Linked DNA regions of Homo sapiens: region 2 is linked to region 1. The links come from fine-mapping of genetic effects on gene expression. A gene starts in region 1. The other region holds a variant in brackets. All regions are shown on one strand. Distances are from middle to middle.

Region 1 (12,692 bases):
GGAATAGAAAATCCTTAGCATGTTCTAAATCACTTTCTCCTTTGTGCCATGTCTCTGTTTTTAACAATTAGTATATTCAAATGCAAGGACTGGCAATTTTTTTTTCTGTTAAGGAACTAGTAGGAACTATTTTAGACTCTGTGGGCCATACGGTCTCTGTCAAAACTCTAAACTCTGCTGTTTTAGCATAAAAGCAGCCACAGAAAATACATAGGCAAATAAATATTGCAATGTTCCAATAAAACTTTATTTACAAAAACAGGTAAAGGACAGGGTTTGGTCCATGGGCTGTGGTTTCCAAACCCTGCTGTAGTTTATCTGAATTTTTGTAGTGTTGCCCAGTATTGTGGTTCTTATTATCAAGTCTGCCCTTGTCTTACTTTGCACGTGTCAAACCCTATTCTCCCGCTTTGTGATTCTCACCTCCTATATCTAAGAGTGAGCCTGACTTGTAAATCCAATTCCTGAACCAGTGTGGCTCAAGGCAAGAAGTGTTATCTGTAGCCACAGCTCCAACAGCAAGTAGGGTATTTGAGTAAGATTTGGTGCTAAGAGGCCTAAGATTGCTGTACCAGACTTGAGATTGGGATGCTGCCTTCATTTCCTTCATTAGCTCTTCAGAGTTTCTGGTTAGGACTGAAGTTACACTCTAATAACTAGTCTCCTTGCAATGTCCTGAATGTGCCTTACTCTCTCTTCCTTTAGGATTTAAATGTGCTTCCTATCTTCCTTCTTTATGCCCCCTGCTCCCTTTCACTCCCTTTGCCTGGCTAATTCCCACTCACTCTCGGGGATTTAAATTGGATTTCTTTCTCTGGAAGCTATTCTTAATTCCCTTCCTCCACTGCACCCCACCTCACCCTCCTAGGCTGGGCCAGGTGTCCCACCTCTGCGTTCTCATAGTGGCCTTTGTCACTCTGTCTTGTAATTGTCTGCCTTACCCACCAAATATATTACTTGGTAATAGAAACTTCCCAGCCGGGCGCGGTGGCTCACGCCTGTAATCCCAGCACTTTGGGAGGCCGAGGCGGTTGGATCACAAGGTCAGGAGATCGAGACCATCCTGGCTAACACGGTGAAACCCCGTCTCTACTAAAAATATAAAAAGTTAGCCGGGCGTGGTGGCGGGCGCCTGTAGTCCCAGCTACTCCGGAGGCTGAGGCAGGAGAATGGCGTGAACCAGGGAGTCGGAGCTTGCAGTGAGCCAAGATGGCACCACTGCACTCCACCCTGGAAGACAGAGCGAGACTCCGTCTCAAAAAAAAAAAAAAAAAGAAACTTCCCTAAGGTGAGTGATAATTTAAAAGTTGGGCATTTAGGGATAGCTCTAAACCTACATTGCCAATTGAGAATGGAGGGCAAGGGTTGTCTTTGTATACTAAGGGAGTAGAACATGATGGGTCTGCCGGCAGGGTTCCTTCACTGTTTTCCTGGATTTGGCCAGGAGAAGCAGCCAGTTTCTACCTCTTGTGAAGATCAGCCACTGGCTGAGGGTCCAGCCAGAGAATAGACTGATTCTCTAGAACAAGATTGCCACCATATCCTTAAATGTGCATTGCCGGCTGTTTTGTCCTACCTGCTTGATGGTGGCCTGAACTGCATGCAAGCTTGGTCTCCTTTTGGGCATTTTGATTTAGCTTATCTCAATAAAAGAGTTATTTTCTTATTCTTCATTTTTTTCTCTTGGTGAGTGGGGCTCTGAACGTCTTTTTCTAACATGTCTACTACTTGAGACTATTTTATGGCAAGTCTCCTTACGAAATTGTAAACTATGGGAAGTGCTGTATTTGGAGTCTGTGAAGAACTGGACTTAGGTCTGTGTGCTTTGTGACTTTAGCAAATAATTTTAACTTCCTTTGCTGAGCCTACTTCTTATCTGTACAGTGGGGATGGTACTTGATCTATCTCACAGTGTGTTTATCAGGATAAAATAAGATTGTATGTGAAAGTGCTTTGAAAAACTGTGAAATCAACTACAAATTGAATTTTGTGTTATTCTGTATTCCCTCACGGCATCTAGCACCATGCGTTGCTGAGAGTATTTGCTCAATATATTTTTGTTGAATGACCAAAGGAATTGGAGAGAGAAATAATGCTGTTGGTGGGAATAAAGGACATTTAGTAATAGAAGCAGGAAAAATACATGACTTGGTAATAGAAACTTCCCTGAGGTGAGTGATAATTTAAAAGTTGGGCATTTAGGGATAGCTCTAAACCTACATACCCAATGTCTGCTCTCTGCTTTGCTTATAAAAAATATTTAAATTTTCTTTTAGTATGATTTTGGCAGCTTAGATAAGCTGTCAAACTTGATTAGGTTTTAAATATGCAGTCATCAAAAAGCAGGATTGGCCCTAGGCAATACTGTGAGGTCAGCAAAATGTACTCTCAGAAATCTTTCCTTCCTGGTTGGTAACCTCACCTCTCACCACTCCCTATTGCAGTGGCTTCTTCTAGTTCTGTTTACCTCCAGTCTCCTAGGACTTTCCTATTAGCTTTTTTCCTCCAAGAGGCATTCACCTTAAAGGGTTAGGAACTAAGACTCCTTGGCTAATTTGCACTTTAAAAAAGGATTCCTAGAGAAGGAGGCAATGTGTTATCCAAATGAGTGAATAAATAATCATGAAATTTCAGGCATTAAACGGAATACAAGTGCTTATCAGCCCCATTCAAATCACAAGACATACTTACTTCATCTACAACTATGGTTTCTCAAACTTGGAGGTATGTAGAATTTCCTGGAGAGCTGTTTTTTTTTTTTTTCTTCAGAGTCTTACTTTGTCACCCAGGCTGGAGTGCATTGGCACCATCATAGCTCACTGCAGCTGGAACTCCTGGGCTCAAGCAATCCTCCCACCTCAGCATCCCAAAGTGCTGGGATATGCCAGCACATACAGCTAATTTTTTTTTTTTTTTTTCGATAGAGACAGGGTCTCGCTTTGTTGACCAGGCTGGTCTTGAACTCCTGGCTTCAAGCAATACTCCTGCCTCGGCCTCCCAAAGTGCTGGGATTACAGGCACAGGCATGAGCCACCGCACCTGGCCAAGAGCTTCTTAAAAATACTGATAATTGAGGTCCTCCTCACAGAGATTCTGATTGAATTGGACTGACTAGGTTTGGACCTGGGTAAAGATTAAAAAACAAAAAAAACTCCTAGGTCATTCTATTGTACAGTGAGTTGGGAACCCTGGATTTAAATCTAAATTGGCACTGGGTGCAGTGGCTCATGCCTGTAATCCTACCACTTTGGGAGGCCGAGGTGGGCGGATCACCTGAGGTCAGGAGTTCAAGACCAGCCTGGCCAACATGGCAAAACCCCATTTCTACTAAAAATACCAAAAAATTTAGCTGGGCATGGTGGTGCACACCTGTAATCCCAGCTACTTGGGAGGCCAAGGCAGGAGAATCACTTGAACCTGGGAGATGGAGATTGCAGTGAGCCAACATTGCACCACTGCACTCCAGCCTGGGCGACAGAGCCAAACTCTGTCTCAAAAAAAAAAAAAAAAAAAAAAATCTAAATTGGCCTTGTCTGTGAGAAAAAGAAAAGCTGAATGCCATTAGATCAAACATTGAGCAGGGTGGGGTTGGAGGGACTTTGAGAGACATCGATAAAGTAAACAGAATGTTAAAAATAGGCCCATGCCATGGCACATCAGCTCGCCAAATATATATATAGGCCCAGCAACTCCATAAGCAAGTCCTTGGCAGCACCCAAGGGAGAAGTCATCTGTGGCTGCTCTGGCTCCCCACTCCCAAACCCTCAGGGAAAACAGCCTATCTCTAACTTTTAGTCCTTAAATCTGCTTTCCAGATGGTTCACAGGTATGACAGATAAAATCTCTGAGCTAAGGAACGAAGTGCTTGAATGGTTGATGTACCAAGTCAGTAACTTCAGGCGATGTAAGATAAACAATTTTGCTAAAAATATGAAATTTGGCTGGGTGCGGTGGCTCACACCTGTAATCCCAGCACTTTGGGAAGCTGAGGCAGGCAGATCACCTGAGGTTGGGAGTTCGAGACCAGCCTGGCCAACATGGAGAAACCCCGTCTCTACTAAAAACACAAAATTAGCCAGGCGTGGTGCTGCATGCCTGTAATCCCAGCTACTTGGGAGGCTGAGGCAGGAGAATCGCTTGAACCCGGGAGGTGGACGTTGTGGTGAGCCAAGGTAGTGCCATTGCACTCTAGCCTGGGCAACAAGAGCGAAACTCCATCTCAAAAAAAAACCCAAATATATATACATATATATATATATATATATATATATATATATATATATATATATACCTATACACACACACATACATATGAAATCTGTTATCTATTTACATTTTACTTAGCACATAGGTTCAGCACATGTTATTACTTTCCTTGCTTTTATATAGCAATCTCAGGATGGGAAACTGATGAATTCACATTGTGTAGTTGGATTATTTTTGCTTGAGCTTTGGCCTCCTCAGCAGCCCATTGGTGTTGATAGCATAACAAAGCCCTTATTATGATACAATCTTTACTATCTCAGCATTGCTTAGTTTGCCTTCTCTGTACTTTCCTGCTTCAAAGATGATCCTTCAGAAAAGTGGATGAAGAAAATGGACTGCCTGGGCCGGGCGCGGTGGCTCACGCCTATAATTCCAGCACTTTGGGAGGCCGAGGCGGGCGGATCATGAGGTCAGGAGATCAAGACCATCCTGGCTAACATAGTGAAACCTCATCTCTACTAAAAATACAAAAAAAAATTAGCTGGGCGTGGTGGTAGGCGCCTGTAGTCCCAGCTACTTGGGAGGCTGAGGCAGGAGAATGGCATGAACCCGGGAGGCGGAGCTTGCAGTGAGCTGAGATGGCGCCGCTGCACTCCAGCCTGGGTGACAGAGCGAGACACTGTCTCAGACAAAAAAAAAAAAAAAAAGTAAATGGACTGCCCTTTACCTAGCAGTTTTTTTTTTTTTTTTTTTTTTTTTGCACTCTGTCACCTAGGCTGGAGTGCAGTGGTGCAATCTCGGCTCACTGCAACCTCTGCCTCCCGGGTTCAAACAATTCTCCTACTTCAGCCTCCCAAGTAGCTGGGACCACAGATGTGCACCACCAGGCCTGGCTAATTTTTGTATTTTTAGTAGAGACAGGGTATCGCCATGTTGCCCAGGCTGGTCTCAAACTCCTGGCCAAGTGATCCACCCACTCTGGCCTCCCAAAGTGCTGGGATTACAGGTGTGAACCACTGTGCCCAGCCGTTTTTTCTGTTTTGTTTTGTTTTGGTTTTTGCTTTTTGTTGTTGTTTGTGTTTTTTTAATGCATTCTCAGAAACATCTTCAGATTCTCCTGGGCAAGCAGTCTCTCCCATTCCTAAGGAAAATCCCACCCATTGGATAGGAAGGCTTCCAGGAGTGTCTGTCTAGTGGCAAGCCACTGGTATGAGATATCTGGAGAGGACCTAAAGCACCCCAGATGGCTATAACTGTATGGCGTCCTACATTACACATCTTGATTCCCCAAGCACCCTGGGGAATCCCTGTGATCAAAAAGGGGAAATGGGTTACACTCTGCCTTTTTAGGGAGATGTCCACAGAAATAAAGGAATTGACATTGTAAAAGCTAGCTCCCTGTCTTTGTTTGTATTTCTTCCTTTACACATATACTTACCTTTATAAACAGCTTGGTTAAAGGTGGCCAATAATAACTACACTTCATGTGGCAACATTGTAAAGTTTAATTAATGTTTCTAAGGTATGAGTTGAACTCACAAGATGAAAGATCCTAAATATGGAATATGTGTTAAGTGCCCAGTCTGGTTTAGTCTGATAATGGCTATAATTGTATGGTGTCCTACATTACACATCTTGATTAGTGTGGCTCCCGTGAGTTCAACCTTGAAAATGTATTTTAATGTTGAGAATGTGTTTAACGTTGATTGGCAAACATTTGGGTGTACAGAATATACGCTTATGTTCTTCAACTAGCCTCAATTAGTTGGTTCTTGATGTAAAAGATATTTTACAAACCAACTTGGAAGGTTTTTGTTTTTTTTTGAGACAGACTCTTTCTCTGTTGCCCAGGCAGGAGTGTAGTGGCACAATCTCGGCTCACTGCAACCTCCACCTCCTGAGTTCAAGCGATTCTTCTGCCTTATCCTCCCGAGTAGTTGGGATTACAGGCACCTGCCAACGTGCCCAGATAATTTTTGTGTTTTTAGTAGAGATAGGGTTTCACCATGTTGGCCAGGCTGGTCTTGAACCCCTGACCTCAGGTGATCGGCCCGCCTCAGCCTCCCAAAGTTTTGGGATTACAAGCCTGAGCCACCTAGCCTTGTTTTTTGTTTGTTTGTTTGTTTTTTGTAACAAGGTCTCACTCTGTCACCCAGGCTGGAGTGCAGCAGTGTGAGCTTGGCTCACTGCAACCTCTGCCTCAGGTTCAAGGGATTCTTTTGCCTCAGCCATTTGAGTAGCTGGGATTACAGGTGAACACCACCATGTCCGGCTCATTTTTGTATTTTTAGTGGAAACGGGGTTTCACTATATTGGCCAGGCTGGTCTGGAACTCCTGGTCTCATGTGATCCACCCATGTTGGCCTCCCAAAGTGCTGGGATTACAGGCATGAGCCACCACGCGTGGCCAGATCTGTGCTTTTTAAAACCAACATGTAACTCAGAAGACTGAAGGGCTTAGATAACCATGTGAGATAGGGAACTATTATTACTAGAATGTAGTTAAATATTAACAGGACTCAGCTATCATTTAGGTTAGTAGAAAAGTTTATCTTTGTATGGCAAAAGCAGCTTTCTCTTATCTTTATGTCCATTCCCTTTCAGTTGCACTAATATTTGTAATTTTTTAAAATGGCTAGCACTTCATATACCCTCCTAAAGATTTTAACTACATGAATTAGAACAACCTTGTTCATTAAATCCTGAAAATGAGTCAGTTAATCCTCCCTTATAAAGACACAGCATTATTTTATTCACATGCAATGAAATACTCAATTCAATAAGCATTTACCCTGCATTTACAGTGGTTCAGCATTTTGTGAACTGTGAGACACGATAAAGGAAAGTTCAATGTATTAAGGTGTCTTTCCTGGCCTTAAGAGTTTACTGTTTCTATTTGGGCAGCAAGAACTATATGGTAGGCCCAGCACTTTGGGAGGCTGAGGCAGGCGGATCACTTGAGGCCAGGAGTTCGAGACCAGCCTGGCCAACATAGCAAAACCCTGACTCTACTAAAAATACAAAAAAAATTAGCAGGCGTAGTGATACATGCCTGTAGTCCCAGGTACTCAAGAAGGCTGACGCACAAGAATCGCTTGAACCCGGGAGGCAGAGGTTGCAGTGAGCCAAGATTACACCACTGCAGTCCAGCCTGGGCGACACAGCAAGATTCTGTCTTCAAAACAAAACAAAATGAAAAAAACTATGTGGTATATTCAAAACAGATAGGAGTGCTTCCATCTGTCTCCTTTCAGGCCCCCATCTCCCTTCTCAGCGGTTCTAAGTTCCATTAGAGCCTTGCTTTCAGCAGGCTGTCATCAAATAGCAATGATATTGTCTAATAATGCCAAAGGTTGATTTGCATTTTAATCAGGGACTTTTCAAGACACAAAAACAAGTGGGCCTGTTTAAACAAAGTTAGAAAGTTGATTTATTTGCAGGGTTCTGATTCACCTATCACAAGGTATACCATACAAGCTGCTTTTACTCCACTCACAATCCTGTCACCCCTGGTTTGTAAAAGCTCTGCTTGCTGGATTGTCTCCCTGCTATCTATGATCGCCTACAGAGTAGACTCCAAATTCTTGGCTTGGTGTGCCAGGCACTTTTGAGCCTCATCTTCCTTACTCCCAGCCAGACATCCTACTTCCCAGCCTCACTGCACTTTCCATGTTTCCATAAACAGGCCTGGCCCTTTCACTCCTTGCTTTGCCCTTGTTTCCGTTCCCCAGAATGCCTTTCATCCTGTTCCCTCTTCTCTTTTTGGCAACTCCCACTTTGAGACACAGCATAAACATAATCTCTGTAGAACTCTTCCTATTCCAGATTTCTCCCAAATTTCTTGTTTTGCCTCTTCTGACAGCACTTTGTATATATGTCATATTATTGTTATGGAAATTAGTTTTGAAACTATCTTCCCCTACTGGCTTCTCAAGGGCAGAGACCTTGCATAGTCTTACCATACATGCTAACTGAATGCTTTTGCAGTTAGAATGATCAACAGGTTGGCAAATTTAGTTTTTGATATTGTGTTACCTCCCTCTGAGAATGCCCCAAGGTTAAGTAAAAACTCCCAACAGGGAATTTACAAGGTTTATTGTTGCTAATTTAACCAAACTTAAAGATTTTTTAAATCAATAATCAATTGTAAAGCATGGGGTCATGAAACACATTAGTAGAAAACACTGACTTTTGCCGATATGGTTCTAAAATGTCTCCTTTGGGACAGCGTGTAAACTGAGATTTGGCAAAAGAAGGAAGTGGGTCTTAGCTTTGTTGGGTCTATAAATTACTGAGTTAAGGACTGATAGAGTGGGGGTTAGGACGATCCTGGGCATAGTGCTGGGTGGGTGAGGGGTTAGTTACCTTTCCATTTCTTCGCCTTAGAATACACACTTAATTTGGCCAGCCAGCTTAGAAAATGCTCCTGGTAGTAAGATAAAAGGATTTACAGCTACATGAAAGAGAAAGGCATCAAAATTCAGGCCTTATTCAGCCTTGGGTCTGTGGTGCCTTGAGATAAAAGAGAAACAATTTATACCGGCACCGAATTAAAAAGTCCTTTTCTTCCTATCTTAGCTCGTTTTCTTCTCCTTTCCTATCTTAACATAGGGACATTCCTCTCCAGCAGCGGGCATAATGGCATGATTATGTTTTCCTCTATTTAGGGTTACTCCCCTAGCCTTGCAACCACTCCTTATTCTTTCATCTCTTTCAAAGTTTCTATTCTCCCGGACCCTTACGTTTTATTCCGTCCCTCCCTCTCTCCTCCTCTTCCTCCTCCTCCGTTTTCCCAGCTAGCTCACTCCGCCCCTCGCCGTCACTACCTTCCCTCCCCCGAGGCTCCTTCCCGCTCCTCCCGCCACCCCCCCCACCCCCTCGCCTTCAGAAAGCTCCAATCAGGAGCTCCGAAGGTGTCTCGAAGGCCCGCCCCCTCCTCCTATCCACTTTTCTTCCCCCCAATTTCTCCCTCCCCCCTTCCCCCCCCCACTCAAGTCCTGCGGACCTGGGGGCTTCGGGATCTGGGCGCTATGAAAAGTGTCTGCCCAGTCACTTCCGGTAAGGGCGCTGCGGCGCGAAGCTTCCCGCGGGACCGTTAAGGAGGGAGTGGGAGTTCCCGGTGGGCCAGGGAAGGAAGGCGCTGCCAGGAAAGGGGATCGCGAAGGGGAGCGGGAGCAGGAGCGAACTAGCGCGAGCGTCTGGGGCACTTTAGCCGCCCCTTTCCAGCCGCCCCCTCACGCGCGAGCTCCCCCGCCCCCCGGGCGGCTGCAGCGCTTCCCTCACCCCCACTCCCTGAGGTTGACACCGCCCCTCCCTCGGCGCCGCGTGACCGGAAATGGCGCCATCTTTAGCCTCTTGTGCTATTGACAATAACAAGCCCTGGTTCTTTCCCCCTCCCCCTTTCCCCCAACCACAGCCTCTCCCCTCCCAGGGAGAGGGAGAAAAGGAGGAGGAGCTGCAGCCTCACAGACTCGCTGAGTCGCTCCTGCAGAAAGGGGGGGAGAGAGATCGAAAAGCAGGGGAGGGGGACGGCACGGCCGTTTACCTGTCTGCCTCCTCATTCGCTCTCCCCCCTCGTTCTGCTCACTCCTGGTGTCAGCCTATCCGCCTTCCCAAACCCTCCCATTCCCCCGGTGTAGCCCCCCCCTTCACTTTCCTTCTCGTCCTCTGTGTTTCTCCTCTCTTCTTTCTTCCCTTCCCCCTCTAGCATTGCTACCTTCTCTCCTACACGCACGCAGGCATATAAACGTAGGTTTTTGATGCTCCTCTGCCTGTTGACCCCGCTATTTTCATGTTTCCAACAGGTTTTTCTTCCCCCAGTCCCTCAGCTGCTGCTGCTGCTCAGGAGGTCAGATCTGCCACTGATGGTAATACCAGCACCACTCCGCCCACCTCTGCCAAGAAGAGAAAGTTAAACAGCAGCAGCAGTAGCAGCAGTAACAGTAGTAACGAGAGAGAAGACTTTGATTCCACCTCTTCCTCCTCTTCCACTCCTCCTTTACAACCCAGGGATTCGGCATCCCCTTCAACCTCGTCCTTCTGCCTGGGGGTTTCAGTGGCTGCTTCCAGCCACGTACCGATACAGAAGAAGCTGCGTTTTGAAGACACCCTGGAGTTTGTAGGGTTTGATGCGAAGATGGCTGAGGAATCCTCCTCCTCCTCCTCCTCATCTTCACCAACTGCTGCAACATCTCAGCAGCAGCAACTTAAAAATAAGAGTATATTAATCTCTTCTGTGGCTTCGGTGCATCATGCAAACGGCCTAGCCAAATCTTCTACCACCGTCTCTAGCTTTGCTAACAGCAAACCTGGCTCTGCTAAGAAGTTAGTGATCAAGAACTTTAAAGGTAACCAAGGCCAAAATCCATAATCACCTAATAAGGATTTGACACTCGAGGGGTCACGTGCTCTATTTATGTTAATATATTAAACAGTTTGGAGGTGGCCTAATGTTTTATGCATAATCAATGAGGTGGAGGGGAGGTCCTTTTTTGGTGGAGGGTTCATTTTCCGGGGGTGGTTAGGATCCTTGTGCTGAAGCATACACCGGGTGTTTCTGTGCAGTATTTTGAGGTCTTTTTCAACCTATTGTATTTAATCTGTTATTCCTTATAACACTGACAATCGGTATGATTGATCCGGATTTTGCAGGTGAGAAATTTGTATTCTAAAGAGGTTTATTTATTTCAGGTGCATAGCGAGCCTTGGCATTGCTGGGATTTTTATTTTTATGCTTCAGTAGGCCACATTATCCAATGCCTAGAAATGCAGGTAGCAATAGTGATCTTTTTATGCTCAAATAAGATTTATAATTAGATTTATACTGTATTCATGAAACTCATTTGGAAGGAATATTTGAAGAAAAATTTATGTTCTCTGCATTTCTTTCCAAAGGTAGGGTTTGAAAGTGAAAAACATTGTGTATACACAGAAGTAGTAACTCTGTGTACCACTAGTCTAAAGATAGGAACAATTACTACATCTATTTTTTCCATCACTAAAATGGATTTTAAAGTATCGACCTGCAGCTTTTAGGAAAATTTGTTCAGACCGTGTTTGAGATATGTGAGGAGAGTATTATGAATACATTGAGGCAAATATAAAATCAGCAATTTTTAAAAATGTATTTGAGCTGAATTAATTTTTATTTGTTGAATGTGTTTCTGTTTTTCTGACTTACTTTTTCAACACCCGTAACTGCCAGGTAATCAGTGCTACAGTGTTTATTAAATAGAGAAGTAAATGAATGAACTTAAGTAATATTTATGAGATAAGTGCTTTGTGGCTGAATATTAGTATTGAGAAGATTAGGTTCTCTATGCTTGTGTTTTTAACATTGTGTGGAAATCAGGAGTATGCTCTATTTTGTCTCAAGCAGAGGGCTATGGTGTTGTCTATTTTTAACCCTTTCTTTTTTATATCACTACCTTCCCATACCCAGGCTCTCAGTTTCTGATTTAATAGTAGAGCTTTCTGAAGTCAATATGAATTGTAATTGAGTAACGTTTTCATTATTTCACTTAAAAATATATGGATTTTGTAGCTAAAGATTTTTAAATGAGTTATGATCCTGGTTGCATTTTCAAATTGGTTTCAGAGATTTTTTTCTCTCCCTCCTAAAATAAAAGCATATTATTAAGGCATTTGGATATTCTAATTAAAACTTTTTTCCCCACACTCATTGCTAGTCAGTGAAGTTTAAAGCCTAGAGTAAGATGTTTCTTTCTATTCTGAAAATGCAACATGGTTTCTGGAGTCATTTCTTTCAGTCTTTAAAAATTTCACTCTGCTCGTAAATGTAGTTTAAAACCTGAGTTAAGATGTTTCCATTTCTATAGATGCTGCATAAATGTGGGGGTCAAACAGACCTGAATTAGAATCCCAGCTTTGCCATTGACTAGCTATGATGACCTTGGGCAAGCTTACTAAATGAGTTCCAGCCTCAGTTTCCTCGGTTGTAAAATAGATTCCTCAGGGTATTGTTGGGAAGATTAAGAGGCTTATAAAGTACCTTGCACATAGACAGTACTTTAAATCTCAGGTTAAAAATTCATGTCGACTTAGGTTTTACACATGATGAAATAAGATCAGGATTGTTATTTTTTATGGTCATTCTTGAATTTTTATTTTTTTGAAGCAATACAATCAATAGGAGAAAAACCTCACCTTCAATTTTAATAGGTGAGTCAAAATGACTTAAACAGTATTATGGCATTTCAAATTTTATTCTTTATATTAAGCTTAAATACAGTGGTTACTTTAATGATTAGGTGTAATAGTTATAAAGATCACAATTTACCCTAAAATTAGTAATGCTATTATATTTTATGAATCTTTGGTTACTGTATCTGACATGGTATTCTGATGCCAACCTTTTACATATCATCTAGATAAGCCTAAATTACCAGAAAACTACACAGATGAAACCTGGCAAAAACTGAAAGAAGCAGTGGAAGCTATTCAGAATAGTACTTCAATTAAGTACA
Region 2 (15,772 bases), 23 kb after region 1:
GAGCCACCGCGCTCTGCCAAGCTTTCTTTTCATTTGCTGATTTATTTACTGGACCTGCATATTGGGAATGTGACTTCTAACTACATATTTTTAAAATTCCACTCCAACCCACAGAACTTGGATGCCCCCCTAGAGTTCATTTTAATGGAATTTTTTTCTTCTGTTGTGGTGAGAAAGGAATTCTGGTGTTACATTTAAGTCATTACCACTTGGAATTATAGATTATATCAGAGTTTTCCCAAAGAGTTTTAGCATGCCTGTTGTTTTAAATTTGAAAGTCTTTTATATATGCATAACAGGAAACTTACGGAAATCTGAAGGTCATCCTTCTGGAATCTGAGTATAAAAGAAGACCAATTCAGTTATTAAAGTGAAGTAAAAATGCAGTTCTTTCTTTTGTAATTGGCGTTAATTCAGTTGTACAAATTTTATTTATTTTTTATTTTATTCCTTTTTGAGATGGAGTCTCTCTCTGTTGCCCAGGCTGGAGTGCACTGGTGTGATCTCGGCTCACTGCACCCTCCACCTCCTGGGTTCAAGCAATTCTCCTGCCTCAGCCTCCTGAGTAGCTGGGATTACAGGCGTGCACCACCATGTCCGGCTAATTTTTGTATTTTTAGTGGAGACGGGGTTTCACTATGTTGGCCAGGCTGATTTTGAACTCCTGACCTCAAGTGATCCACCCGCCTCAGCCTCCTAAACCGCTGGGATTACAAGCATGAGCCACTGCGCCCAGCCACAGATTTTAAAATCTATATTTAACTATTCTTAAACTGAAATGTTGGAGAAAATTCCTTGGTATTATATCATACTCATTATCATACTACTAGCAATAATTTCTGCTTTGTTCTGTTCAGGAAAATCCAAGAACGTTTAAGTAAATTTTAATTCAATTGTAGTAGGACTGCCCAACCCATCTGATACATAAACAACAGGTGAAATTCTTTTTTAAACCCAAAATGAAGCTCTGCTTGTGAAAATGATTAACATTTTAAACAAGACAGCTTTTTTATTTTTGAGACAAGGTCTCACTTTGTCCCCAGGCTAGAGTGCAGTGGCGTAGTCATGGTTCACTTCAACCTTGAACTCTTGGGCTCAAGTGATCCTCCTGCCTCAGCCTCCTAAATAGCTGGAACTACAGGTACACACCACTGGGCCCAGCTAATTTTTAAATTTTTTGTAGAGATGGGGTCTTGCTTTGTTTCTGTATTAGTCAGGGTTTTCTTAGAGGGACAGAACTACAGAACTAGTAGGAGATATATATAAAGGGGAGTTTATTAAGTGTTAAGTTACACGATCACAAGGTCCCACAATAGGCTGTCTGCAAGCTGAGGAGTAAGGAGAGCCAGGTTGATTCCCAAAACTGAAGAACTTGGAGTCTGATGTTCGAGGGCAGGAAGCATCCAGCATGGGAGAAAGATGTAGGCTGGGAGGCTAGGCCCTTCTCTCCTTTTCACTTTTTTTGGCCTGCTTTATATTCACTGGAAGCTGATTAGATTGTGCCCACCAGGTTAAGGATGGATCTGCCTTCCCCAGCCCACTGACTCAAATGTTAATCTCTTTTGGCAACACCCTCACAGACACACCCAGGATCAATACTTTGTATCCTTCAATCCAATCAAGTTGACACTCAGTAGTAACCATCACAGTTGCCTAGGCTGTTCTAGCCTGGCATCAAGCAATCCTCTCACCTTGGCCCCCCAAAATGTTGGGATTACAGGCATGAACCACTGTACCCAGCCCAAGTAGGATTTTCTTTGAGCAGCATGTTGGCACTCAAAAAGTTTCAGATTTTTGAGCTTTTTGGATTTCAGATTTTTAGATTAAAGATGCTAAACCTGTAATTTGTTCTTTTTTGATACAGTGCATTGGTTATGAGAAAGTTTGCCACCCACATTGATATATTTTGTTGTTTTACCTTGTGTCTTAAGTGGATGAATAACCCTTTTTAATAAGCTGATGTGGTAGAAATATCAAATTAATAAGAATCTGATGTAAATAGTTGAGAAATCCTTCATCCTCTCCTTAAGAAAGTATTTTAACCTTGCAGGCTGTAGAAAATCTCTGTTCTTACAAGATTTCTGCAAACTTGTACAAACAGCTGAGACAGATCTGCGAAGATCACATCAAAGCACAGATTCATCAATTCAGAGAATATCCTTTTTAAAACAAAAAATCGTGAATAGTTTTGTCTTCCTCTCTGTCCCTACCCCTCACTGTTTAACCCAGCTTGAAGTAGAATGCCTGTATTTTGTAGGTTTGTCATTTTTTGTGCCTTGTGTTTCTCGAGAAAGAAACACATTTTGACTTTTCAGCCTTAATTCGTGTCCAGGACTACGTGTGGTATTCATGTAAATAAGATGTCCTTATGTCTTTATCCTTTTTGCCCTATCAGATTTCCACTTGAGGAAAAATAATCTCCTAAGGGAAATAGTAAACTGAAAACACGATGTTCAGTTATGTCTAAGACTTGTTTTTAAAGGTGTTTTTTAGTATAAACTATGTTTTTTTTTTCTTTTACAAATTAGGAAATAGCACTTTGGTGCATAATCAAGTGCCATTTAGTTTCACTTAGTGTGCAAGGTATTCATGTTTAAGACTAATATGCTCTCTGTCACATGGCACATATGACTTGTACCAAACGCTTTAAAATATCCTTAACATATGTTTCAGGGATTCATTGGATAGCGTTCTTTTTTTAAAGAAGATTGATAGATGCTGGCAAAACCATTGCAGACAAATGGTAAGCTGGAAAAAGTATTGTATTTCGGCTAAACATTGTATTAATAGTTAAAAACATTTCTTCAAATACAGGAATGTTAGTTTTTAAAACTTAGCAATAGGGAGATTGCTTCAATATCTATTCCTTTTCTTTTTTTTTCTTTTTTTAAAAATTTATTTATTTTTTATTTTCCCGTAAGTTATTGGGGTACAGGTGACATTTGGTTACATGAGTAAGTTCCTTAGTGGTGATTTGTAAGATTTTGGTGCACCCTTCACCAGAGCAGTATACATTGCACCATTGTAGTCTTTTATCCCTCGCCCCCCTCCCACTCTTCCTCCCAAGTTCCTTTTCTGAATTGGAAACTAGTTTTGGTTGAGTTTTCTATTTTAAAACCACAAGTTACAGGTAAACCTGCATTTCAGAATGTCTTGCACCTTAGGTTCATTTTTATTTTTGTCACACTTACCAAAAATGTATTTATCTCATTCATTAAAAAGCTACATTTCGTCTGTCACTCTTATTTTTTTTTCTCTCTTGATGATTATCCTGTCCACTATTTGATTACCTGTGAAGGTGCCTGATGGTCCTGTGTTTTAGTTTATTCAGATAACAACCTTTTCCATTTTTCTTAATCTGGTTTATACCTTATATTCTACAGATTAAAATCTTAAAATCCATCACCCCTCCCCACCCCCACCCCCTGCCAATAAAAACCCTCACATGTGCAATGTAAGGCAGCTTCATTCCCTAGCACTGTGGCGCAGGAAGAATTATATGAGCGTCCCCTTGATTTTTCAGTTACTTCTCAAGCAGTAAATCAGAGGGCCATTTTAAGTGTCTTTTTTCTAGAAAACACAAAAAGGATTGACTGTTGAGTAATAAAAACTATATGGGCATATTCTCAGATAGATGTGTTTATCTGCATGTTTGATCTTAGTAATGTAATATATATACAGACAAACTCTTCAGTTTTATTCTTATTGAAAGCAAATATTTCAGCTTCACAACATACAAAACTTGTTTGATTTCTTTTTTTTTCATTGGCAGATCATGATCAGGAGCATTTTTTTGTTTCTGGATAGAACTTACGTTCTTCAGAATTCAATGCTACCCTCCATTTGGTAAGGATGCCAGAAAAATATGAAAAGATTGTTCCAAATCATACTCAAATCTTAATTACACTAATGAAAGTGTATAAGCTATACTGTGAATATTCTAAAAATTCACATTTGGTTCTAGACTTTCCTTTGTAGCAGTTTTATCTTCCTAATAATATGTTGCCTATGCTAATATTGAAGATAGCTAACATTCCCTGGGCATATATTAATTTATGAAGAAGTTTTTTGTTAGCCGAGGGGACTAAAGTTTGCTCTGGAATGTCTATGATTGTGATTCATTTTGCTGCTGACCATCAAGAGTTCACTCATTTAACATTATGCAAAAGTCCATGTATACACGAAAATAGAATAGTATCATGAACTCTTCCCCCTCCCATGTACCTATCATCTGCCTACAGCAATGATCAGAATTCACTGATTCTTCAGTATTGAAACCAGTTGATAAATAACCAAATAAGCTTTCAATACCAGTACAGTGAAAACTGTTTTATGTCTTAGAACTAATTTTGTCTGTTGATTTGAGCAAAGAAGAAATCCACAAAAAGAAATAATACAACAAAACTTAGTTATGGAGGAAAATAGGAATTTAGCTTCAATTCTCAGTAAAGGCAAAATGAGTTTCCTGTGTTCTTTAATCTAATAATGTTATTCAAAATTAAATGTGTGGATTTTATTTTTTGACAATTGCTGCTTCAAAGCCCTGGAGCCCTAATTAGCATGGGAACATGTGGTAAGAAGTTAAGCAAACCTCTTCAGAAGTGGTATTGTCAATTAATTTAGGTTATATGTGTTTTTTATTTTAGGGACATGGGACTGGAGTTATTTAGGGCTCATATTATAAGTGATCAGAAAGTGCAGAATAAGACAATTGATGGCATTCTTCTCTTGATTGAGAGGGAAAGGAATGGTGAAGCAATTGATAGAAGTTTACTTCGAAGCCTTTTAAGCATGCTGTCTGATTTGCAAGTAAGTTAACTACTACACCTACTATACAGAGCTGATTGCTATCCTAGTTTTTTTTCCCCCCACATCAGACAGGTAATGTGCTGATGTCATAACAAGGTTTGAAGGAAGCACATCTCATATATGAGCATAAAAACCCAATCATCATGCTTCTCAACTACAAAAGGATCCTAGCTTGATGTTTAAAAACCAAATTCATAATGCTGTTTACATAGACATAGAGGACATTTAGTAAATATTTGCTAAATAAATGATCTCCTTCATTTTGTTCCCCCTCCAGATTTATCAAGATTCTTTTGAACAACGATTTTTGGAAGAAACTAACCGGCTCTATGCAGCTGAAGGCCAAAAATTAATGCAAGAAAGAGAGGTATTTAAAAATCATGACTAATAAATTCTCACTGTCTCTCACAATAGACCTTACTTTGTAGAATATAAGCTTCCCTTTGCATTTATCTTCCCAACATTGTGATGCTCTTCTCTCACTTAGGTGCTCCTTTCTTTTCTCTCTTCTTAAAGGCCAGAATTCTGGATCATAAACTCTACCTATAAATTTTTACATATGATTCTACCCTGTCACATTTGACAGGGCCACTTCCAGGATCTTTTGGACTTGACATTTTCTGAATGATTTATGGGGAGGAAAACAATAATGTAAAAAACTATCTTTGTAGGTTCCTGAATATCTACATCATGTTAACAAACGTCTAGAAGAAGAAGCAGACAGACTTATTACTTACTTAGATCAGACCACCCAGTAAGTACCACATGCTGAATTTAATAGTCTTAAACTGTCGTTAAATCACTTGCAGCACTTTAGCCATCCTAAACATGTTAGTAACTGTTTTCAGGTGTGATTTGAAGTGTTAACAGTTGTTTTCATAATACAAACTTCAAGTTATTCTTTTCCCTAGTTAATTAGTTTTCATCCAAGGATTCGATTATTAGGGGTGTGTGTGTGTGTGTGTGTGTGTGTGTGTGTGTGTGTTTAGAAGGTAATTTAGAAATAATACTAGAGGCTGATGTGACCTTTAAACTCTTCAGGCCAATTAAAATTCAGTGGATTCCCCTATTTCTGTGCTTTCCTAAGTATTAATATTGCCAGTCGAGGGGCCTCTGTATGTAGTACTTCTTTACCTTCCTAATAAAAGTAGCAAAACTTGGAAAAAGCCGACTACAGCAAGGTCTTGGAGATATTTATTTCGTTATGTAAACCAAATTCTAAAATATGCAGTGTTTTTTTAAAATTTTTGCCTGTCAGTTCCTTTATGTCTTTTTCTTTTAGGCATAAAGTATAGTAACTCTGAGCACCAATAAATTTATACATAGGATAGGAATCTTGAAATCAACATAAAATGAGCTATTTGATTTTTTTCCCCCCTCAGGAGAGGCTTTACATTTTCTGGAAGTCAAACGTCAATAATACTAACCTTTTTTTTTTTCCTTGTAGGAAGTCATTAATTGCTACTGTAGAAAAACAACTTCTAGGTGAACACTTAACAGCAATTCTTCAGAAAGGTAATTGGCAATTTGTAAATAAGAGATTGCTTTTTAAATGGTAGTGGCAAACTAGTAGGGAATTTTTAAAGATGTTGCCCTTTTAAAAGTTTGATAGCATGTGGCTGCATTTCTGAGGATGGACACAATCCTTATTAATCACAGTAAACTTCCTGGAGGTGCCAGTTTTCTTATCTGAAAGATACAGGAACTAGAAGAGAGGGATCCACAAATACCAATAAAAAAACAGTGGTTGATATGTGCCTGTAGTATCAGCTACTTGAGAGGCTGAGGCAGGAGGATTGCTTCAGCCCAGGAGTTTGAGGTCAGCCTGGGCAACATAGTGAGACTCTCGTCTCTTTAAATAAAATAAAAGAAAAAAAGTGGGAAATTCTTGACTTAATATGTAAGCTTTCAGTAAGGAAAGGTATTCCTTTTTACACTAAAGCGGTGAGGGTTTTTTGTTGTTCATGGCATGTCAAACCAAGCACTTCTAATCCCAAGTGAATTTAGAGTATACCCTACATTTTACTTTGAGAATGCCGCAAATAGGTAAAAGCCTTACCTTTCTCCCCAATAATATTTTCTTTTGTATAAAAATTTATATATTTAGAAATTTAATGCAGTTATACTGTTATTTCATCCTGGAAATCAAATATTTATTAGAGCCTCATTTAAATTTGACCTATTTATGCATGGCTTTTGATATATCACAGGCTATATCCAGTATTCTGAAATATAACTATGTACATAATATGGCTACTACATATATGAGGTATTTATAATGTATATTTATGTAAGCCAGTTTTTATAAGTTTGTTTTTGCCTCTAATCTATCATGCTAAATGGCACAAACCATTATGGAGTTAACCATTTTTCTTTTTCTTTTTAATTTTTTTAACTTTTTGAATTAAAATAGAGAGGGGGAGGGGGTCTTACTGTTGTGCCCAGGCTGGTCTTGACCTCCTGGCTTCAATTGATCCTCCTGCCTCAGCCTCCCAAAGTGCTGGGATTACAGGTGTGAGCCACCGTGCCTGGCCTGTTTTTATTTTTATAGCGACTAAAGTCTCTATATTTAGTTTTTACCCAGAAAGATGGTTGGGTTTAATTCAAAGGAAATCTTACATTACAACTCACATACAGACTAGTCATAGTTCAAACCAGTATCACAATAATGATTATAACTCAAATTTTATTAAAATGTCTGATAATCTTGTTCACTTTTTTGTTCACTATATTTTAATGCCAAAATGTTTTAAAATACAGGTTTAAATAACCTCCTTGATGAAAACCGAATTCAAGATTTGTCTCTTCTGTATCAGCTCTTCAGTAGAGTTCGAGGTGGAGTTCAGGTTCTTTTGCAGCAGTGGATCGAATATATCAAGGTATTAACAATTTACCTGTGATTTTTCTCTCTTATGGCTTATCTACACATCAAGAGTGCATATTGGCAAGCATTTCTTGTTTGATCCAATTTTTTTTTTTTTGAGACAGAGTTTTGCTCTCGTCACCCAGGCTGGAGTGCGGTGGCACGATCTTAGCTCGCTGCAACCTCTGCCTCCCAGGTTCAAGTGATTCTCCTGCCTCAGCCTCCCAAGTAGCTAGGATTACAGGCATGCACCACCATGCCTGGCTAATTTTGTATTTTTAGTAGAGACGGGGTTTCACCATGTTGGTCAGGCTGGCCTTGAACTCCTGAACTCAAATGATCCACCCGCCTTGGCCTCCCAAAGTGCTGGGATTACAGGCGTGAGCCACCACACCCGGACTTGATCCAGTTCTTTTAAGGGAATTTTAAATTTGTTTAAAAAGTAATGGGAATTTTGAGAACAGTCAACCTGAGAATGGTAGCTGTGTGGCATATCAGCTATAAAACCTGATTGATGGCTGACATAATTTCTGTCTCTACCACTTAAAGCAGTAAATGTAGAAAAAGACTTTGAACCCCAAATTTCTTTCCTTTCTTCAATCTTACACTAAAGCCAGATTGCCATTTTAAGGAAGTTGAAAGCTGACTTCTTTAAAAATAAGGAAAAGATCCCAGAGGCTTCTAATAATACCCTGTTATGATATCATATGCCCAGTGATCATTGCTTACTATTTTTGTGATTATAGATGAGTGGTTAACAGTGTGGATATTTAGCACTTTATTTTTTTGTCCTCATTTCACTATCAGCTTTATTTTGCCAGGTGCAGTGGTACATGCCTGTAACTCCAGCTACTTGGGAGGCTGAGGCAGGAGGATCCTTTCAGCCTAGGAGTTTCAGACTAGCCTGGGCAACATAGCAAGATTCCATCTTAAAAATAGCTTTATCTTACTTTTTAAAGATCTTTAAATATATATGCCACTTAAAATATGATTTGGGGATTGTTTTCATTGTAGACAATTCGATTACAGTAAAAAGTGGTAATTTTTTGTTTTAGGCATTTGGCAGCACTATTGTAATTAATCCTGAAAAAGATAAAACCATGGTTCAAGAATTGCTGGATTTTAAAGATAAGGTTGACCATATAATTGATATCTGCTTTCTGAAGAATGAGAAATTTATCAATGCCATGAAAGAAGCATTTGAAACGTTCATTAACAAAAGACCAAATAAACCAGCTGAACTTATAGGTATGTTTTCCAGTCCTTTTTCCAGTTGTTTAATGATGTTCTTTGAGTCATAAAATCTCAATCTGAAATTTTTACCAGGTTGTAGTATTACTAATTCCTGATTTGTTTGAGGTTGCTTAGCTGGTATATCAAGTTTGAAGAGTGTTTCTAAAAACCTGGATGTAAGTACTGAAAGCCCACATGTCAAACATAATGTGCTTTCTTTCAAAGACAGTACGTTGGACACTATTTACCTTTATTGATAATAAGCTAATCTGTTTTCCTAGCCTAATGATTTAAAAATGAGGCAGGGTGTTATTTCAAGCTACAAAAAAGGGCAGCATGAAATTACAGTTGTCAGTGAAAAAGAAAAAAGTCCAGGGCAAAAATAAACCTAATAATCTGGGCCCATTTAGCATAAGGATGTGATATACACTACAGTGCTTCTCAGGTTTTTCCACCCAAGTACCCTTAGTGTCAGAGGAGGAGGTAACCTGAGAAGGTCTAGGGTCCTCTGCCAAAAGGATGAAATTTTGTTGCAACCTATCTACTATGTATCCGTAAACATGTAGCAAATTTTACCTTCTACTCTACGATGTATCTGGTTTATTTTAATAGAAAAGTAATGTTTAAGATTGCTTACTATTCCTATAAAATGGATACTCCAGAAGATTCCTCATGTCTTTTCGTGGCTTGGATTACATGATGCCCTCACAGGGCTACATGAGACCTCCCCCACAGGATATCCGTATCCTATTTTCATAAACATCAGTATAGTGGGAAGTACATTTGATCTGGAGTCAGAACACTTGGGTTTGTGTTCAGGCCCTGATGTTATTAGCTCTATGGCACTGAACAAGTCAGTTGATCTTCCTGACTTTGGAGACTTTTAAAAATGCATATAAATTTCTGAAGTATTGAAAAACTCAGTGTATCATACTCCTCTTTGGGTATATATAGTGCCCAGTACCTCGTGTATTCCCCGGTTATTAAACAACAAACTTTTCCCCCATTTTAGCTAAGTATGTAGATTCAAAACTTCGTGCAGGCAACAAAGAAGCTACAGATGAAGAACTTGAGAAAATGTTGGATAAAATTATGATCATATTTAGATTTATCTATGGTAAGTATTTACTAATGTTTTAATATTTTTCTTTTAAAATAGCACTCAACAGAGAAGCTAGCAAGTATATTCAAACTGGAGGGAATATTTATTTGGAAATTACAGATTTAAAATTGTGTTTAATTCATTGGGGGGATACGTGAGGAATGTTACCTGATTGTCCTATGCTTTGGCTCTTCTAGTATTAAGTGCCTTGATTTTTGCTACTTGGCTTAATCTCTTAAATATTGGCACCAAAGCTACCAGTCCACAAAAGCTTTTCTGAAGAAAAGTTAATGCAATCAAGACAGTTACATGCAAAAAAGTTTTACAATAAAGACTTCGAAATGTCTGGCACAAAAATGGATCTCTACTGTTTCTTGCATTTAACAAACTTAAATAAAATGTGTAAAGTAAAATAACTTGGAATAATGGTGTGCTTTATTAAAGCACTTTAAAGCAGTTTTGTCAGTACTTTTTATTGGAATATTATAAATTTTGCATTTCTTTTTACATAGGCAAGGATGTTTTTGAGGCCTTCTATAAGAAAGATTTAGCCAAGCGCCTGTTAGTCGGAAAGAGTGCATCTGTAGATGCTGAAAAATCAATGCTGTCCAAACTTAAACATGGTAGGTTTCTCATTCTTTCTGTTCCTTTTCTTTGATTCCTGAAGGAGAATGTTAGCTTTTTACCCTTTCAATCGATTTCCTCTTTTGTCACTCATGTCTATGTATATATGATGAAAACATAAATTGAGCAAGCTCCTGAGGTTTCCAACTTATTGTACATAATATCCAGAGTTGTTTTTTTTAAGATAAAGCATTGTTCTTGGTTTTATTATTTGTATAAAAATTTCCCATTTATTTTATACCTAAATAGTAGATAAGGTTACTACAGGATTAAAGAGTTTGACTCTGAATTAATGGGGCATACACTTTGGGGTAAGGATTTCTTTTTATTCTTATGAAAGTTACAGATCATACTTCATACTAAAGTTTTGTATTTCGTGTTTCCCACTTTTAAACCTCTTTTGTTTTTACCA[C/T]TTTAAAATATTATACATGTACAAACATCTTTAATAGAATGCGGAGCTGCTTTCACCAGCAAACTTGAAGGAATGTTTAAAGACATGGAACTTTCTAAAGACATCATGATTCAGTTCAAACAGGTAAAAGTGAGTTAAACTCTTAATTCCTCAAACTTAGTTGTATTTAGTTATCTGCTTGCTATGATTTGTACTAAAGAGGATAAATAGAAACGTGTTTGTTGTAATTCATGGCAACTGAGGTGATATTCACAGTAGAAAAAAAAATTGGTGAAATATAAGTATATTTGACCTACTTTAGGATTTATTTTTGACAAACACCCAGAATAACACAAAAATAAAAATAAAATGTATTGAACTGAAGTCAGTACAAGAAGAGCTATAGTGGGAAAAGGGCTTTCCTCAGCATCTTATCGTTTGGTAATTTGCATGTTCAGAGCTTGCAATGGGGAGAGAGGAGAAGTGATAATGCAGCTGTATAAAAGCCTTTGGGGACATTGGGGATAGAAAGCTAGATCCACAGTTTTGAAGATGTAGGTAGAAAGTAGTTTTGAAATGTTTAAGATCATAGGTGATAATGATGGCAAATTAGATTTTCCTCTTTTGGGTTTTAGTAGTGACTTCTTTACCCCACAGTGTTGCTAAGGTGGGAAGTGGAAGTGAAAGAATTAAGAAAAAATCAGGGTCAGTAAGATTATGGATTCTATAGTAGCTACAGAATAGGGCTTATCTGCTTTGCCCTTTTCCCCTCTTTTTCCTTCCCTACTCCAGGTCACTCCCTGCAGACAGGCAGTGGAGCAAGTGAAAAACTGGAGACTTGGGCTGGCTGGGGGGTGAGGAATGGGGGTTGCTGCAAGGTGTTTAAGCCACATAGGGGTATTCAAAGGTGGGGACTGCAGGTGGTATTGGGGAAAAGAATGGAGAAGAGATCCTATAACGGCCCAGCTGTATGTGAGAAATTATTTAAGTTGATAACGCCTGTAATGAGGTCATGTGATCCTTGTATGCCTTTGTATCAAAATGTTAACCTCTGTACTTGCCTAGTGCATTTTGTGTAGGTTTCATTTAAAGTCTTCTTAATAGTTGCCTTTTATTTTAAGGATGGTCAGTGTTTGCATGTAATTTCATAACAGGGAACTTCTTAAATAGGTTATTATGATATGAAATGTATGCAGTTTTAAGATCTCAGTGTGTGTTTTGATCTTCTTATAGTATATGCAGAATCAGAATGTTCCGGGAAATATTGAGTTAACTGTGAATATCCTGACAATGGGCTATTGGCCGACATATGTGCCTATGGAAGTTCATTTACCACCAGAGGTAAGAGTTACTGTTTAGAACTGAGTTATAGGCATAGAAATCATAGCATTTCCATTTTGCTTGTCATTTAAAAATAGATACTTAGAAAAAAATAGAGACCCAGGGTCTCGCTGTATTGCTCAGGCTGGTCTTGAACTCTTGGGCTCAAGTGATCCCCCCCGCCTCAGCCTTCCGAAGTGCTGGGATTACAGGTGTAAGTCACCAGGCTTGGCATGGATACTTTTAAAAGTGTATGTCAGTAAGCGCACCAACACCAAATACCAACTGCTTTAATGTTTTACTTTTGTACTTAGAAGTCCAGTTAAGCACATAGCTAATAATGCCAAATTTCTGGGTTCAGGGTCAATTTCCCTGGCTCTTCTTCCATCTTCCCAGGTTATACCCCTCACTCTACCTAGCTATTAAGAATTCTTGCACATATTTCACCCATAGGTGGGATTGCTAAATGATGGGTCCTTGATTAAATCTATCCTGACTCCTGGTAAACTGTCTAGTCCAGGACTGAAGCCCATAAAAGGGATTAAGGCTAGACAGATAGATATTGAGAATCCTCCATGGAGATGATTATGAAGGCCCAGGGAGTAGATTTCTCTCAAAGAGGAAGAAAAAACAGCAGAGGCAGAACTTTAGAAAAGGCTCACATTTGGCAGATGGTAGAAAGAGGAACCTGTGAAGGAAACCAATGCAGAAGCAACAGTGAAATAAAGGAAGCAGCATAGTGCAGAGGCACAAAAGCTGCTGCAGGTGAATGTTTCAAAAGAGGGGATGATTAAATGTTCAGAGAGAGCAAAAGGTATAAATCCTAATAAATCCCATTTGATTTGGTGGTTGGGAGATCATTGTTTTTCATCAAAGTGATTGGTGGACCTACTGGATATAGTCTTAAAATTTTCCAGAAACTATATCACATGAGGTAAGTATAAAAATGGTAAATGTGGTATTGGATACAGAGCTTAAATAAAGCCTTATTTTATTTACTTTAGATGGTAAAACTTCAGGAGATTTTCAAGACATTTTACCTAGGCAAACATAGTGGCAGGAAACTTCAGTGGCAGTCAACCCTAGGACACTGTGTGTTAAAAGCAGAATTTAAAGAGGTAAGTGGATGTTCCCAAAACTTTTAGTTTTCATCTTTATCTTTAATGTTTAGGTCATCCTTCTTAACTGAAAGTTTAGGCTATTGTTTTTTGTTTTCTTCTTTTTTTTTTTTTTTTTTTTTTTTGAGACAGAGTCTCACTCTGTCACCAGAGTGGAGTGCAGTGGCGCTATCTTGGCTCACCGCAACCTCTGCCTCCTGGGTTCAGGTGATTCTCCTGCCTCAGCCTCCCGAGTGGCTGGGACTACAGGCGTGCGCCACCATACCCAGCTAATTTTTTTTGTATTTTTAGTGGAGACGGGGTTTCACCATGTTGGCCAGGATGGTCTCTGTCTCTTGACCTTGTGATCCACGCGCCTCGGCCTCCTAAAGTGCTGGGATTACAGGTGTGAACCACCGCATCTGGCCAGTTTAAGCTGTTGTTTTATAATTGTATCCTAGATATCCGCATGATGACAGTGATAGTTTGTCATAGCTTTATGTATTTTTAAGTAATTTTAGGTGTGTGGTCTTTCCACGATTGATTTGGCCCTTCTGCAAAATGAAAAGCAGTGAACTTTCCCCCTACCCTTTCCTCACCTGTGGATGAAAACTGTACACTGCCACTTCCTATTTTTATTTATTTGTTTATTTTTAGAGATAGGGTCCCACTCTGTCACCCAGGCAGGAGTACAGTGGCACAATCATAGTTCACTGTAACCTCAAACTCATGGGCTCAAGCTATCCCCCTGCCTCCGCTTCCTAAAGTGCTGGGATTACAGGCATGAGCAACTACACTTAGTCTAACACTGCCACTTCTTGACAGAAATCTTGTTGCTGGGAGCTACGAATAGAGTGGGAGTTAAGGGAAACAGTGTGCAATATCTAATCTCAAAAAACTTTAGCTTTTCATGACTAATCTGAGCCAAACAAATCAAAAATACATTTGAAATAGTGATTTCTTGCTGCTTGTGATGAATATCTAGAATGACACATAAGGCTGATTAATTTTCATTACTGTATTCTATTTATAAGGCTTAAAAAAAAACTGTTAAAAGGTCAGCTAATCCTTCCCCCTATTTTAGGTAGGGTCACACCTAAACCTCACACTGAAATACTGTATTACCACGTCAAGTGGCTTTGCTGGATAATGCTAATCATGTTTCTAAATCCACTAATTGAAAAATGCTTTTCCTATAAGAGATGATTAATTTTTCATGTGTTTTTAAAAAAGTGATGACTAAACACTTTTATTTCTTCAACAGGGTAAAAAGGAACTCCAGGTCTCTCTTTTTCAAACACTGGTGCTGCTAATGTTTAATGAGGGAGAGGAGTTCAGTTTAGAAGAGATCAAGCAGGCAACTGGAATAGGTTTGTAGCAAACATTAATTGTTCACTATGTGCACACCACTATGTTAAGAGGTCTGGGGGACATATTTATAGGAATAATTCCTTGCCTCAGAACTGTTTTGAGTTTTTTTTTTCTTTTTTTTTAATGAGACAGGGTCTCACTCTGTCACCCAGGCTGGGGTCCAGTGGTACAATCATGGCTCAGGCTCAAGTGATTCTCCTGCCTCAGCCTGCCAAGCAGATGGGACTACAAGTGCATGCCACCGTGCCTGGCTAATTTTTAAAATTTTTTTTTGTAGAGACAGGGTCTCACTATGTTGCTTAGCCTGGTCTCAAACTCCTGGGCTCAAGGGGTCTTCCTGCCTCAGCCTCCCTAAGTACTGCAATTACAGGCATGAGCCCCTGCAGCCAGCCAGAACTCTTTTTTTTTCCCCTCAAGACGGAATCTTGCTCTGTCACCCAGGCTGGAGTGCAGTGGCGCGATCTCGGCTCACTGCAACCTCTGCCTCCTGTGTTCAAGCAATTCTCCTGCCTCTGCCTCCCGAGTAGCTGGGATTACAGGCGCCTGCCACCACACCTGGCTAATGTTTGTATTTTTAGTAGAGACGGGGTTTCACCATGTTGGCCAGGCTGGTCTCGAACTCCTGACCTCGTGATCCGCCTGCCTCGGCCTACCAAAGTGCTGGGATTACAGGTGTGAGCCACCGCGCCTGGCCAGAACTCTTTATATAACCATAGGGAAAGGGGGAAATGACACTTGAAATAATGTCAAAACCCATAAGTACTGGCTTGTGGTACTGACTATAAGTGTGGTAAGAGTGCAACAAAGCAAGAGATCACCGTGGACTGGCACAATTGGGAAAGCTGTCATGAAGCAAGTGGCATTTGAGCTGGGCCTTCAAGTTTTGGTCAGGGAGAAGGCATATACAGCAAGGGGAAATATTTTGAGATGAGGTTGGGAGGTAGGAATGGGCACAGTATAGG

What was found. PIP is the estimated chance that this variant, and not a neighbour inherited with it, causes the effect. A credible set is the group of variants that fine-mapping cannot tell apart.
Region 2: its variant is the best candidate, but not a certain one, in a credible set for the expression of CUL4B in whole blood (TOPMed, PIP 0.56).

Annotation. Positions count from the first base shown.
Region 1 is chrX:120,557,944-120,570,635 of GRCh38, reverse strand. CUL4B (cullin 4B) reads left to right here and starts at 9,674. Exons shown (of 20, transcript NM_001079872.2): 1 at 9,674-10,553; 2 at 12,597-12,692. The coding sequence starts at 9,998. RefSeq lists silencers at 9,025-9,074, 9,375-9,454 and enhancers at 8,835-9,719, 9,428-9,722, 9,720-10,605.
Region 2 is chrX:120,533,518-120,549,289 of GRCh38, reverse strand. CUL4B (cullin 4B) reads left to right here. Exons shown (of 20, transcript NM_001079872.2): 3 at 2,051-2,154; 4 at 2,674-2,743; 5 at 3,773-3,846; 6 at 4,647-4,809; 7 at 5,087-5,176; 8 at 5,481-5,563; 9 at 6,257-6,324; 10 at 7,570-7,688; 11 at 8,728-8,920; 12 at 9,918-10,022; 13 at 10,520-10,630; 14 at 11,081-11,166; 15 at 12,256-12,363; 16 at 13,347-13,460; 1 more. It overlaps LOC124905273 (small nucleolar RNA U13), which reads right to left and starts at 4,975; the gene lies at 4,872-4,975. The variant C/T (reference allele first, on the strand shown) is at 11,044.